Linked DNA regions of Homo sapiens. The protein of the gene in region 2 interacts with the protein of the main gene of each other region in a biochemical or structural test. Each region holds a gene or a part of one and is shown on either strand. Other genes may lie near its edges.

What was found. The genes of interacting proteins can lie anywhere in the genome.
Region 1: the proteins of CUL4B (region 2) and DCAF8 form a complex in vitro, tested with the Homo sapiens proteins (one study listed by BioGRID).

Annotation. Positions count from the first base shown.
Region 1 is NC_000001.11:160,238,550-160,242,049, forward strand, and holds part of DCAF8 (DDB1- and CUL4-associated factor 8), read right to left. Parts: intron 1,822-3,500; coding exon 1,148-1,821; exon of another isoform or gene 673-1,147; intron 199-672; coding exon 58-198; intron 1-57. UniProt on the Homo sapiens protein: May function as a substrate receptor for CUL4-DDB1 E3 ubiquitin-protein ligase complex.
Region 2 is NC_000023.11:120,526,661-120,529,962, forward strand, and holds part of CUL4B (cullin-4B), read right to left. Parts: intron 197-3,302; coding exon 101-196; 3' UTR 1-100.

The sequences.
Region 1 (3,500 bases), on a different chromosome or scaffold from region 2:
GGCTGAGAACCACAGAGGATTTGGATTGCACAAATTTTGGAGCAAGGTCTTACTTACCTTGTGGGACGCTCCCTTGTGCTGGGCCACACGTTTTGTATTCTTGCAACACTGTGTGGCAGACAGTTCTGCTACTCGAACCTGCCCGTCACGGGCACACATGGCCAGAGTAGAATCACCACTGTTAGGAAGAAACTTGGCCTGGGGTGTTAAAAATGAAAAAAAGGACACACAAAAGAAATGAGAGAGGTAAACTTGAGAATAAAAAATACGATGATGACCTCAACTTACCCCCTTTTCTTACATGACAGCTGGAAACTTAGCTTTCCTACTCTTGTACAGCTGGCTAAGCCCAATTTCTTCCAGGAGTTAAAGGAAAGGGAGAGAAAAAACTTCCTTTGATGTAAGAGAGCATTTCAGTTGGCTCTGGAAGATTGAACTGGCACATGATAAGAGCTCAGATGAACTAGGACTGTATCTAGCAGAGGAGAAAAGGAATAGAGGAGGAAAAATCTACTTTGATTAAGAAAGTAAATATAAATTTGCTACAAAGAAAAAGGAAAATAGGGGGAATGTCAGGGAAGAAAAGAGAACACCCTTAGGATAAATGGCTGGTACCAGTACAGTAGATGGGGCCAAGGAGTAAAATCTTTCCAGAATAACAACAGTATAAGCTAACATTTATCAAATGTTTATTAAGTACCAGTCACAGTTCTAACTGCTTAGCTTCTATTGTTACTTAATCCTCATAACCCTATGTGTTATTAGTCCCATTTTACAGATAAACTGAAGACAAAGGTAAAATAACTTGGCCAAGATCACTGAGCTAGTAAGCAGAAGGGCTAGGATTTGAACTCAGGCAGTTTGGTTCAAGAGCCTGTGCTTATACTACACTGCCTCCTACCAGCACACATTTAATAAGCTGCATGCACCCTACCTATGAGGCTTCCAACAGTCCACATGCTCAAGGAATCTAGGGTTGCCAAGAGTCTTTCAGTGTATTTAGGTCATTAGGGGAGCCAAAGTAGGGCCATGTCCCGATATGTAATTCCTACAATAACTCACTATCAGCTCCCAATCCATGCTGCAGTTCAGATTTCTCTAACTCATGCCTGATTCTCTCAGTTGCTATTATGCTCCCTTGCCTCACCTGGAACACATTACTTTTGTGGCCACTCTCAAAGTCCAGTACTGGCTGCCGCCGTACCCAATCCCACACCACCACCTTCAGGTCATCGCTGCCACTGGCCAGCCAGGTGCCGCGCTGGTTAAAGTGCAGGGTATTGACACAACCAGTATGGCCCTCAAGCCCATGCTGCAGGCGGAAACGCTGCACAAAGACTCTTGCCCCACAGGCCTCATAGACAAAGCGGGCACTTGAACCCAGCTCCCGCTCCCGAAGGGCAGGGAGGGCTTGCCAGCGAGGTCGGGGTAGAGCTGATGTTTCTGAGGACACCCAGTCCTCTAGGGCCCGCTCATCATCTGATGAGTCCTGGTCACGGTTAGCCCGCTTGCGCTGTACACGGCGCCGAGGCTGCTCTTCTTCCTCCTCTTCTTCCTCCTCTTCCTCTTCCTCTGAGCGGTCATGGACTCGATTTTCATCATTAATGGAGTAATGACCAGTGTCCTCCATGCTGTCAGAGTCCTTATCTTCACCTGAGCTCTCTGTGTCTGTGCCTCGACTTTCTGTGCTGGTGCGGTTGGGGCCACCATCATCCCCAGTCAAGCTCAAACTCAGGTCTGAGGCCTCCACTTCAATGCCTGAGGATGTCTCCCTCCCCTCTTCAGCTCCAGACATCTCCTCTGGACTGCTAGACAGGCTTCCTGCATGTTAGTGAGGAAGGAGTAGAGGAGAGGGAAAAATAAGAAAACAGGATAGTGACCACCTTAGTCTAAGAAATCTTCACATCAAAAGACCAAAAAATGAACTTTGGTCCAAGTGTTTTCATTACAAATAATTACAGAGAGTACCCTCTGAGGGGAAATCTTGTAAAGGACAAGAAATTGAAAAGATTAAGATCAAATCCACACACATAAAATACTTCAACAAAAGCAAAGAATCTCAGGACAATCTAAGATTATATTAAGTTCTCAAGAGGCAAAACATTGGCATATTGTATAAAAGTGTGCCTGATACATCTACCATTGGCTCTGTTGTATTGGATGGGCATTTATTAAGTTATAGCAAATAATTAAACAGAATATAAAAAGAAGAGCCAACTCCAGCAAGAGCTAGCATAGCCATCTTCTTAGCGAAAGACGGAAACCAGCTGATAAAAATCACTCTTGACTTATGGATGTGGTGTTGCACCATTTCCTACTTTAAGAAAGTATCAGGCCAGGCACGGTGGCTCACGCCTGTAATCCCAGCACTTTGGGAGGCCGAGGCACGTGGATCACGAGGTTAGGAGATCGAGACCATCCTGGCTAACATGGTGAAACCCCGTCTCTACTAAAAATACAAAAAATTAGCCGGGCGCCTGTAGTCCCAGCTACTCAGGAGGATGAGGCAGTAGAATGGCATGAACCCAGGAGGCAGAGCTTGCAGTGAGCCAAAGTCGCACCACTGCACTCTAGCCTGGGCGACAAAGCGAGACTCCATCTCAAAAAAAAGAAAGTACCACTACACCTTCTGTCACCTAAATCCTAAGCTTCTTCCCCACCTAAGTTTCTAAAATTCACTAAGAAAGCAAGCTGAAGGGGTAAGTGGGAATTGTGATCATTTGAGTGGGTTCTTGCTCACCTTTTGCTAGTAAATATATTTTGACTTACTTCCATTAGTTTGAATTTTTTAATATAATTCTTAGTCACACATTTTTAGTCTCTCTATTGAGACAGTTTTATTAGGAAGCATATATAAAATTGATAAAAAGCTGGGCTACTATAGTGGTGCCTAAGACGAAAGTTCAGTATATTCTAGGTCTGCTATGCTGATAGTTAAATAACTAGGTCACTTTTATCGATCTTATCTCCTATAACTACATACTGCATTCTCTTAACTCACAACAGTCAAGTCAATTCCAATGAGAACTTGAGGAATGTTCTAAAGCCAATACAACCACAACTTCCAACCTAAGTCAAGGTGTGAAGAAAAAAGGGGAGAATAAAGATTTTAAATGCTGCTCATGGGCCTCCTTTCCTCAGATGGCTATAAATTTTATCCGCCAGAAGTAAAAGCTGTCAGGAAAGGCAGACCATCCAGTATGAGCTATTCAACTCCAATACCACACTGATGTTTAAGGATTCAAAGGTGGAGCACCTTATTGCCTAGTCATGTGGATTAGAGCAGTAATTTGTGAAGAGCTCTGAAGCAATGTACTCTTAAGCAAAACCCAATACTGAAAAAAGATCAACAATACAAGTGCTTTGATTCAAGCAGTAACAGAAGCCCAGAAGACATAAACAGTTCTTGCAGGCTGGGCGCGGTGGCTAACACCTGTAATCCCAGCGCTTTGGGAGGCCAAGGCGGGTGGATCACCTAAGGTCAGGAGTTCAAGACCAGC
Region 2 (3,302 bases):
GGTCATCGGTAGTAAAAAAGGAGTCAAATAATATTGAATCAACAGGTTAGTTTATCCACTGGCTACTGCATATGACACCAAATGCTGCAAGGCCAACATTCTATGCAATATAGTTGTACTGGTTTGGATTTTCTTTATCTCTTTCCATGTAGTCCCGGTCAATTAAAGATTCTATTCTCTTCTTAAGATCAGCAGGCTGTAAGAGAAGGCAAATTTTCAATGTAAAGTTCATTATCATTGGCTCAAGCCCATTTAGTTAATACCCCATTAAAAAGACAACAGTTTCGGCTCATGAATTTAATCTCCTTTTTTAAAATTTTTATTTATTTAAATCTCTTTTTTAGAGAAAAGTATCATGAAAATAAACCAGGTTAAAAAATGTTTTATACACGTTGAAGATTCTTTTTTTTTTTTTTTGAGACGGAGTCTCGCTCTGTCACCCAGGCTGGACTGCAGTGGCACCACTTTGGCTCACTGCAACCTCCACCTCCTGGGTTCAAGTGATTCTTCTGCCTCAGCTTCCCGAGTAGCTGGGACTAGACACAAGCCACCACGCCTGGCTAATTTTTGTATTTTTGGTAGAGATGGGGTGTCACCATATTGGCCAGGCTGGTCTTGAACTCCTGACCTCAGGTGATCCACCTGCCTCAGCCTCCCAAAGTGCTGGGATTACAGGGATGAGCCACCGTGCCCAGGTATGTTGAAGATTCTTTAACGCCAAAAGTGTTTTTGATTTTTGATTTTTTTTTGGAGCTTTTAATTTTTTTAATAGACAGGGTCTTGCTATGTCGCCCAGGCTGACCTTAAACTCTTGTTCTGGAGTAATCCCCCCAGCCTCAGCCTCCCAAAGTACTGGAATCCCAGTACTCACAGGTGTGAGCTACCATGCCTGGTCCTGACTTTTTCATTTTGGTATATTTGCATATACATAGTGAGATACCATGGAGATGGGACCCAAGTCTAAACACAAAATTCATCTATGTTTCATACATACCTTACATAGCCTGAAGATAATTTTATACCTTTTGTGCATGAAACAAAGTTTTGACTGCAACCTGTCAAATGAGGTAAAGTGTGGAATTTTCCACCTGTGGCATCATGTTGGCATTCAAAGTTTCCAATTTTAGAGCATTTCAGATTTTGGATTCTCATTAAAGGTGTTCAACCTGTACTATATACTATACATACATTAAACTGTCACATCCTTGTCATATTGTTACGGAATACTTTCTATTACTTTTCTATTTTAAAGAGGTCATGCCAGAAGCAGCTACCCTTCGCGTGGTTAAATACAAAAGACTACATTTATTGTAACTTCACATGAGCACTGTAAGGTAGTTTAAGGACACAGAATACTAGTTTTGTCAAGATAGTTCATGAAGCACACCTTTACTTTGGGCAAGAGTTAGTTGGCTTCATTTTTATAAATTAAGATTTAAAACGTACTGATGAAATCACTATTTAGACCGGGTGTGGTGGCTCATGCCTGTAATCCCAGCACTTTGGGAGGCTAAGATGGGTGGATCACCTGAGGTCAGAAGTTTGAGACCAGACTGGCTAACATGGCAAAACCCCATCTGTACTAAAAATACAAGAATTAGCCAGGTGTGGTGGTGGGCGCCTGTAGTCTCAGCTACCAGGGAGACTGAGGCAGGAGAATTGCTTGAACCCGGGAGGTGGAGGTTGTAGTGAAACGTGATCGCGCCACTGCACTCCAACCTGGGTGACAGAGCAAGAAGACTCCATCTCAAAAAAAAAAAAAATCACTATTTAAAAGAATACTGGACAGGTGCAGTGGCTCATGCCTGTAATCCCAGCACTTTGGGAGGCTGTGGGCAGATCATGAGGTCAGGAGTTCGAGACCAGCCTGACCAATATGGTAAAACCCCGTCTCTACTAAAAACACAAAAATTAGCCAGGCGTGATTGTGCGCACCTGTGGTCCCAGCTACTCGAGAGGCTGAGGCAAAAGAATTGCTTGAACCCGGGAGGCAGACGCTGCAGTGAGCCAAGATCATGCCACTGCACTCCAGCCTGGATGACAGAGCGAGACTCCATCTCAAAAAAAAACTACATGAAATGGCTTGATAAATGAAGTACCTCATAATTTAGATCTTCATATTTCTGGTTTAGTGCATCTAAGTGACTTGGATTTCTGCATCCTGTGATTTAAAAGTAATCAAGAAAGCTTGTAGCTTTATCTTCATGATTGCATTCTAAGCTCCTGGATGACAAAATTCCACTATATATCTTATGTATCTAGTCTGTAAATATAATATAATCTTGTTTGCTAATAGAAAGTTTTTCAGGATAAGTAAAATGACCACTTGTTCAAGAGGGGAAAAGAGGGGAAGTAGTCTGATACAGCAGTGAAAATTTTATCCAGTAATCCCAAGGTTGGGAAATCAGATGACTTCTCTTAATTATGGTGAAAGACCTAGAATATCAGCACAATATTAACTACAGCGATCCCCTAATTTCCCCAGCATCAGTGATCTCTCTGGCTTGAGGTGAAATGACTATTAAGCAGAGCATGAGGGTGAGAGGGTGGTAATGAGGAGTGCGATATTAGGTTTGGAGAAAAGAAAATGCTTACCTTATTAGAACTAAGAGCTACCGAGTGCTTATTATGTACCAGGTCCAGTGCTAAGATTTTTACATTCATGATCTCACTTAAACCTCACAATAATCCTACAAGGTAAGTACTATTATTATCTCAGTTTTACAAAAGAGGAAACAAGATCAGCATGGTGAAGTGATTTATGAAAGTCCAAAGCTCATAAGAACCCTAATAGCTAGCAGTCTATTCAAACTCTATCAATGTTTATCATCCAAGGGTTTGGCTATCTACCTCCTAAAACTTGGAAAAAAGGCCAGTACAACATCACATTAAGTGACTTTATTATTGGTCATTCACAATGGAACGTTTCCATTTAATGACCAATTTCAGTTTACCAGAACTATCACTACACTTTTCAAAAAGATGCTTAATCATGACTAGTTATCTGTATGGTTTTTAACAGATGATCTCTTATATAAGCTAACTAAACAGGAGATTTAACTCAATCCACAATAACTAAATCTGTCAAATACCATGGTATTTCAATAAATACCATGGTATTTCAAGAGGAAAAGAAGTAAATAACCAACCAAGAAGTTCAAAAGAAATATAGTGAATAAACTTGAAAATTTCAAACACTCATTTAGCAGTTAAACTTTCAGGTATCCAGGCTTTTCTGTTATTTTTCCCTTTTGTCACTGCTGCCCACATATGCCAACAAAGTTTTTTTTTTTGGAAATCAT